Regions from separate parts of the Homo sapiens genome. Here regions 1 and 3 are each linked to region 2. The links come from fine-mapping of genetic effects on plasma protein levels. A gene starts in region 2. Each other region holds a variant in brackets. All regions are shown on one strand. Distances are between the middles of the regions. Region 1 overlaps NELL2 (neural EGFL like 2). Region 2 holds the start of NELL2 (neural EGFL like 2). Region 3 overlaps TMEM117 (transmembrane protein 117).

What was found. PIP is the posterior inclusion probability: the model's chance that the variant is causal. The UK Biobank Pharma Proteomics Project read protein levels with antibody pairs (Olink). The fine-mapping took linkage between variants from a reference panel, not from the people measured, so its PIPs are less certain.
Region 1: its variant is fine-mapped to the plasma level of the NELL2 protein (UK Biobank, PIP above 0.99). The variant lies in the coding sequence of NELL2. If it changes the protein, the assay may bind it differently, which can mimic a change of level.
Region 3: its variant is fine-mapped to the plasma level of the NELL2 protein (UK Biobank, PIP above 0.99).

The regions. Positions count from the first base shown.
Region 1 is chr12:44,713,197-44,715,961 of GRCh38, reverse strand. It overlaps NELL2 (neural EGFL like 2), which reads left to right. Exons shown (of 20, transcript NM_001145108.2): 10 at 1,221-1,312. Among named protein-coding and RNA genes, the nearest start is that of NELL2, 160 kb to the left of the region's middle. The variant A/G (reference allele first, on the strand shown) is at 1,265.
Region 2 is chr12:44,874,840-44,877,604 of GRCh38, reverse strand. NELL2 (neural EGFL like 2) reads left to right here and starts at 1,290. Exons shown (of 20, transcript NM_001145108.2): 1 at 1,290-1,790; 2 at 2,252-2,380. The coding sequence starts at 1,736. RefSeq lists enhancers at 166-665, 666-1,167.
Region 3 is chr12:44,288,796-44,291,560 of GRCh38, reverse strand. All of the region lies in intron 5 of TMEM117 (transmembrane protein 117), which reads right to left. Among named protein-coding and RNA genes, the nearest start is that of TMEM117, 450 kb to the right of the region's middle. The variant G/T (reference allele first, on the strand shown) is at 1,738.

The sequences.
Region 1 (2,765 bases), 160 kb after region 2:
AAATTTAAAAGTAAAAATATGTCTACTTTCTTCCTTCTTTATTATTGGCAAGTTGATAGTTTTAAAGGTAATAGGGATATATAAATTCCAAAGAGTGAGACAATTTCTCATAATTCACACAGTGGAATCAAAAGAAAATATACCCATTCACTTTATATAATTTGTATAGTTAAAATAAAAAATTGGATTTAGTAAATTTGGGGAACAAATTGCCAGAGTCTGTATCAGTTGATCACTTCCACTGGTCTTTGAAATAATTATCTTGGGGTAGATCTAGATGTTATGGGGACCTGAAGCATCTACAATATTGGGTGGCCTTTCAAAGATAAACAATACAAAATTATGAAAGGAGAACTTAGTTCAGCATCTTACAAGGAGCCTAAGCCAGAGAAGGACGCTGAAAATTAGGCATCATTAGCTTTAGGGTAAATCTGTTTCACCTTAGGTGATGAGTCAGTGTAGGTCGTGTGAAATACTTCAAAACAAGGAAATGATTTCTGTTGGCTAAATGTTTGTGTGAACTGTAAATATGTTGCAGGTTTTAGAAAAAGATTATTTGATACTCTATGCATTTTTATGGATTAAAAACATATTTTTCCCATGGAATCTAAGGTTACATTTTAAAATTTCACTTAATTGTGATGGAAGCAAGGCAGGTTCAGATTCAGACCTCTCAGCATCCTAGATGGGGTGCCCTAACCCATACATACTTATAAATAAAATGACACTAAACCATAAAACTTAAAACTTACATGGATGTGCTGAAATGAATATACCTTCTTTCTATTATAATGTTCTATTTTAAAATTCTGTAATGGTATATAAAACAAAAACTTTTCTCATATTGTTCCCTGAGTCTCATATTACCCCTGATTTATTGCCGCCCTAAGTGACTACTTAATATGCCCTAAGTGGGACATCATCTATTAGGCAAGTAATTGGCTGTAAGTCTGCTTTTTGGCACTACTTTTTCAGAGTCTAATTCAGACATGTCATTGCCCTTTATCTTTTTTATATCTTATTTTACTCTCTCAACTTAATTTGCATGACACTAATTTAAGTTTACATGTGCCTTGCAGTAGATTGAATTGAGGTTTCTGGTTAGTCATACATGTTGAAAAAAGGTGTATAACATGTGGAATGCTGTTACAAGATGATCTGATCCCTTCTAAGCTATTTTTCCCAATAAAATAAATATATATGTATTTTTTACTCCAAAGCGATATGCCAATTTCAAGGACGAACCTACTTTGAAGGAGAAAGA[A/G]ATACAGTCTATTCCTCTTCTGGAGTATGTGTTCTCTATGAGTGCAAGGTAAGAAGACTATTCGTGGGTCTTTCAAAATTGTTTCTATTTATAAACAAGATAAAAGTTTCTTTACTAGCTCAACCTTGAAATACATTTTTGAAATTCTAATGCAAAGAGAAAATTCACAATATTAATTATCATTTGAATGTAAAGAAATTCTCATTTTTAAGCATGTAAATTAGTGGTTGAAAAATAATTTTTCCAAGAAATGAAAATGCTATTTTGTCAAATTAAAGCTTTATGAAGTTGTCGTATGTTTTCCAAATTCAAATAAGCTCCTTATTTGCTCTTGGGAGGAAAATGTAGGTGAAGTTAGACTTAGCTTTTTGTCACTCATGATTTTGTACCATGTGAGAAGTATTGCTCAGTTCAATTAAAAACAAAACGAAAAATTACCTAACTAAAATTAATTGTTGGATGGAGTTGAGACTGATATTTATCTAATTCCCTTTGGAAGGAGTGTTTTAAATTAGTTAAAGGGAAATTCCTTACAAATTTACTTGCCAAGGTTTCTGAAGCAAATGTGATTCATTTGAATTTTTGCCCCTCGACCTACTAATTGAAAAACTAAATATGTTTCACAACACTTTTCATGTTTGTCTTTTGTAAATTATAATGTTATATTTCTTGACCCTAATGTTACATTAAAATCCTTATTCTATATGAAGGAAACTGTCTATATATAAAATTTCTGCTTTAGGGTTTCATTTTTATTTGATAGTTAATTTTCCTCTTTAAATACCTCCTATACATGGTTTGGGAAATGATTTAGTATGTATAAATTATGTAGAAAATTAAGATAGTGATTTATGCTGCTGGCACCACCAATAAACTATGATTGCTAAGAGTGAGGGAAAGGAAAATCCTAAGAATTTTGCTAAGACAAATTGAATCTGAAAGAAGCTATCCAGTTTATGCATCTTAATTTGGAAATCCTTTGAGATAAGCAAGGAGGAGATGCAAAGAGGCAAGACTGTGACAGATTTGATTTCTAGAACATGAAAGCTCTGATTTCTTCATGCCCATTATAAAGTATCCTCTCTTCTTCTTTTAGTTTTAAATCAGCTTTCCAATGATGTAGGTTCTCATCTTAGAGAATAGAGGCACAGGAACATTAAAATGAATTCCTCAACCTGTATTTCAAGATGATGGATTTTCCTTTATCAGCCTCCCTACACCAATGCCGTTTTAAGTGGAGTAAGTCTCACAATAGATAAAAGAATTGGAAGACAGAGTGAGATCTAGTAACTCCAAAATGAGAAAAGAGACTCAGAGAAGTTACTTCAAGGAGGGAAGAAAACTTCTGCCAGCTGGCTTCTAATAGTAATCTCTAACATTAAAATTTTGGTTCTAAATTTAAAAATCTTGAGAGCATTTAAAGTTTCTCTACTTCTCTTTCTCTCTCTCTCTGTCTCTCTCTCTCTCTCTCTGTCTCTCTCTGTGTGTGTGTGTGTGTGTG
Region 2 (2,765 bases):
TATATTATACTCCTGCCTTGCAGGGGGCTCAGACTACCCAGTAGGCATTTTGGTAACTGTAGCTGTTAGTATCCAGTTGGAGAATTCAGTACCCACATGTTTGCATGGAAGGTTAAGAAACCCAATTGATCTTTGTACAGATTAATACCATAATGGTTTTTTAAACTCTTAACTTTTCCAAAATGAAAGTGGAATGCCATTCCTCAAAATTTACCTAAAAATTTTAGGGCTATGTTCAAAAAATATTATGTACCATTGATCTTGAACATACATGTGCCTGCTGAAAAATGGATCTCAAAGGACACCACTTTTATGGTCCCGGACATATGTGGTGAAGGGCAGGTAGAGCCTGCATGAGTGTGGTCAACAGTGGGATGGCTCTTCTCTCTCGCCTGGGCTCCATCTCCTCCCTCTGCTTATTTACGTATTTATTTATTTCTCTCTCTCTCTCTCTCTCTAACCATCTCCTCTATGTAGGTAGATATTTCGGCGTGAACAGACGCCCTGGCTCAGTTCCCCTTGCCTTCTGCTGTATGCTGGTCCCAGAGAGCCCGAGTCCGGGTCTCCACGCTTTATTTGGCAGGGGGCGCGCGGGTTCCGGAGCTGTCCAGCACCTCCTGGCCAAGTTCTCTGCGCTCTCCGCGCCCGGGAAGCTCTCCGCGCCGGGGAAGCTCTCCAGCGCCCCGCCCCCGGCAGGGAACCTCTCCACCAGGACACCCGGGGCTTCCCAGGCTCGCCATCCGTCCCCACCAGTCTCTACCTACTTTGCCCAGCTCCACCTCGGCAGTGCAGCGTGTTTTGGTGGCCTTCCTCCGCACGCCCTGGAGGGGGAGTGCCCTGCACCCCGGGGCTGCTCCGGAGCCCAGTGCACGAGTGCACATGGGCTTCCCTCCTTTGCTTAAAGGGCAGGCGAGCGCTACTCGCTCCAGCCTTGCCTCCTGCAGCTGGGTGGTCTTTTTTCTCTCCTGTCTTTCAAGACACGCGCCCGAAATCGAGGGGTGAGAGCAAAGACCGCCCATCAACTTAGCACCTTGGATTTAGAGCTTTCAATCCCGAAAGGAGGTTGGCATTGCCCGGGTCATCGAGAGAGGGAGGGAGAAGAGCTGAGGCTGCAACGGCTCCTGGGCTCCCTAGACCGGGTTTGGCATCCAGGAGACCGTGCGGGAGACCGACGCTGAGCGCCGGCCTCGCCCTCGGCGGCCCCTCCCTCCTCCTTACCCCGCCTCCCCCGGCCCGCCCCTCCCTCCCCGGAGGAGCAGTCTCTCCGCGCGTCTCCCGGAGCTTTCTCCATTGTCTCTGCCTTTACAACAGGTTCGGGCGGCGGGGAAGACGGGGGGGTGCGGGGCCGCCCCAGCCCGGGCTTTCTTGGGGCCGCCCCCCTTCTACCGGGTGTGCGAGTCTTTGGCTGCTTTTATTCGGCTCGGGAGCTAATTCCCCGACGGAGCCGCGCCGGGGCGAGTCCGACCCCTCCCTCCGGGCCCCCTCCGGGCCGCGCTGCCGCCTCGGCCCTGCGTGTGGGAATGATGTGCGCATTGGAGGGTCTAAGTTCTTCACGCGCCTGGGGAGGCCTCCCTTTTCTTTCTTAGGCAACCAAAGCGTATTAATCCTACTGATCAGTAAATCCGAGGCAGCAGCAGGAGAGACAAACGTTATTTTCCCGCTTGATTCCAAGAACCTCTTCGATTTTTATTTTTATTTTTAAAGAGGGAGACGATGGACTGAGCTGATCCGCACCATGGAGTCTCGGGTCTTACTGAGAACATTCTGTTTGATCTTCGGTCTCGGAGCAGGTGAGTGGCCGCAGAGCTGGGGCTGGGGAAAGGGATGGCTCCCGCCTCGGGGCAGCATGGGCTGGCTGGGGAAGCCTCGCTTTTCCCGGACCCAAAGTAGGTCTGGAGTGGGAAGCTTGGAGTAAGGGGGCGGGTTTGGATATGGATTTTTTTTTTTTCTGTGCTTGCCTTGGAGACCGCGAGGCGGATCACGCCCCTAGTCCAGGGTCGGAGGGCTGAGGGGGAACTTTGCAGAGAGAAGGGTTTAAAGGAGGTCATGGAAACGGGACTGGGTGCTCCGCTATTTAAAGCTTGGCTGCTGATCTCAGGTAAGGCTCTCGGCGGAGGAGGAGGCAGTCGCCTCTCATCTTCAGTTCCCAATATTGTCGCGAAAACGCGGTTCTTTGCTGCCCTGGAGGAAGAGACTTGCATTTTGATGGAGCTTTTCCTTTTTCTCTCTCCCACCTCATACCCCTCACCAGTTTGGGGGCTTGGTGTGGACCCTTCCCTACAGATTGACGTCTTAACAGAGTTAGAACTTGGGGAGTCCACGACCGGAGTGCGTCAGGTCCCGGGGCTGCATAATGGGACGAAAGCCTTTCTCTTTCAAGGTATGCCCGGCGTGCTGCATCCCCACTGTGATTTCAGTTCCGATAACCCCGGCAGGAGTTGCTCTTGCCGCTTGTCCTAACTTTGTATTGCCTCATGGATGACAGTACTTTAGCTGAGGTGTAGAAGGGCCAGTGTGAGACACATATCCCTATCTCTTTTAAGTGGTTTTTTCTCCCCTGCCTCACCCTTCTCCTTCGTACTTTGTACTCTTGCCAGTTCTAATGGATAGTCCCTTAATTACTGAGCAGAAACTCCTATGGCAGATGGTTGATTTTAGAATCTGGGGAACAATGAATTATAACACAAACGCCTCGTTTGGGTGAAATTGATTTAGGTAGGAAAAAGGATAGCTTAATCTTAGTTAAGACACTGATCTCTGAAAGT
Region 3 (2,765 bases), 590 kb after region 2:
GATGCCCACCCTCATCATTTCTATTTAACATGGTACTGAAAGTCTAGCCAGAGCAATTAGGCAAGAAAATGAAATAAAAGATATCCAAATCAGAAAGGAAGAAAAACTGTTTCTGATTGCAGATAACATGATCTTACATACAGGAAACCCTAAAGACTCCACCAAAAAAAAAAAAAAAAAAAAAAACTGTTAGAACTAATAAACAAATTGAGTAAAGTTGCAGGACAAAAAAATCAACATACAAAAGTTAGCTGTGTTTCTACATACTAATAATAAACCATCTAAAAAGAATCAAAACAATCCACTTTACAAAAGAATAATAAAGAATAAAATTCTTGCAAATAAATTTAACGAGAGGTGAAAGATCTGTACACTGAAAATTGTAAGATGTTGATGAAAGAAACTGAAGAGACAAATAAATGGAATACTTCCTATCTTCAGAGATGGGAATAATTAATACTGCTAAAATATCCATATTACCCAAATAAATCTACAGATTCAATGTAATCCCTATAAAAATTCCAATGGCATTTTTCAAAGAAATCAGAAAAACATTTCTAAAATTAATATAAAACTATAGAAGATGTTGAATAGCCAAACGAATCTTGGGAAAGTACAGCAGGGCCAGGCACAGTAGCTCATGCCTAAAATATCAGTGCTTTGGGAGACCAAGGTAGGAGGATCTTGAGATTGGAAGTTCCAGACCACCCTGGGTAACATAGTGAGACCTCGCTTTTATATATAAAAAATTAATAACCAGCTGGGGCTGATGGTGCATGCTTATAGCCCCAGCAACTCCAGAAGCTGAGGTGGGAGGATTGCTTGAGTCCAGGAGTTTGAGTTTGCAGTGAGCTATGACTAAGCCATTGCACTGCAGCCCAGGTGACAAAGAGAGACACTTGTCCTTAAAAAATAAAAAAGAACAAAACTGGAGGTGTCACACCTTCTGATTTCAAATTATGTTACAAAGCTACAGTAATCAAAACAGTATGCTACTGGCATAAAAATGAGATACATAGACCAATAGAACAGAGAGCCAGAAATAAACCCATACATAGACAGTCAACTAATCTTTGACAAAAGCACTAAGAATACAAAGAGAATGGCATTGTGATAAATGAATATCCACATACAAAAGAAAGAAATTAGACACCTACATCATACACAAATATTAACTCAAAATGGATTAAAGACTTAAATGTAAGGCCTGAAATCATAAAACTCTTATAAGAAAACAGGGAAAAAGCTCCTTGACATTCGTATTGGCAATGATTTTTTGTATATGACACAAAAAGCAGAGGCAAAAAAATAAAAATAAGCAAACGGGATAACATCAAAGTAAGAAACTTATGTACTGCAAAAGAAACAATCACACTTATGTACTGCAAAAGAAATAAAAAGGCAAGCTATGAAATGGGAGATGGTTTTACAAACCTTGTATCTGACAAGGGGTTAATATTAAAAATATATAAGGAACTCATACAAGTTAATAGCAAAAAATGAAATAACCTGGTTAGAAAATGGGCAAGGGGTGTGAATAAACATTCTTCCAAAGAAAACATACAAATGCCCAACAGGTGTATTAAAAGGTGCTTTATCTCACTAATCATCTGGGAAATGCAAATTAAAACTACAATGACATATTGCTGTTAGAATGGTTATTATCAAAAAGACAAGGGATAACAAGTGTTGGTGATGGTGTTAAGAAAAGGGATCCCTAGACTCAGTGCAGTGGCT[G/T]TAATCCCAGCACTTTGGGAAGCTGAGGCGGGCGGATCAGGAAGGAGTTTGAGACCATCCTGGCCAACATAGTGAAACCCTGTCTCTACTAAAAATACAAAAAATTAGCCAGGCATGGTGGCGGGCGCCTGCAATCCCAGTTACTCGGGAGGCTGAGGCAGGAGAATCGCTTGAACCTGAGAGGCGGAGGTTGCAGTGAGCTGAGATTGTGCCACTGCACTCCAGCCTAGGTAACAGAGGGAGACTCTGTCTCAAAAAAAAAAAAAAAAAAAAGAGAAAAGAAAAGAAAACAGATCTCTTTTACATTGTTAGTGGGAATGGTAATGTAAATTGATTCAGCAAGTATGGCAAACAGTAAGGAGGTTCTTCAAAAAATTAAAAATAAAACTACTATACAATCCAGCAAATCCACTTCTGAATATATATCTAAAGGCAATTAAGTCAGTATCTTGATGAGATATCTGCACTTTCTTGTTCATATCATCATTATTCACAACAGCCAAGATGTAGAACCAACCTAAGTACCTATTAATGGATGAATGAAGAAAGAAAATGTTACACACACACACACACACACACACACACACACACACACACAAAATGGGATAGTATTCAGCCTTAAAAGAGATGAAATCCTTCCATTTGCAACAACATGGATGCACCTAAAGAACATTATGCTAAATAAAATAAGCCAGATATAGAAATACCCATACTGTATGGTATCACTTACATGTGATATCTGAAAAAGTAGAACTCATAGAAGCAAAGAGTAGAAGAACAGATATCAGGGATTATGAGTGGGGAAAATTGGGAGATGTTGTTTGAAGTGTACAAACTTTCAGTTATAAGTGAATAGGTTCTGAGGATCTAATGTACAGCATGGTGACTATAATTAATAATACTGAAGTTTTACTTGAAATTCACTAGGAAGGTAGGTATTGAGTGTCTTCACCACATGCATACATACATACACACACAATGGTTAACTATGTATGATGAATATGTTCATTAATTTGATTGTGTTGATA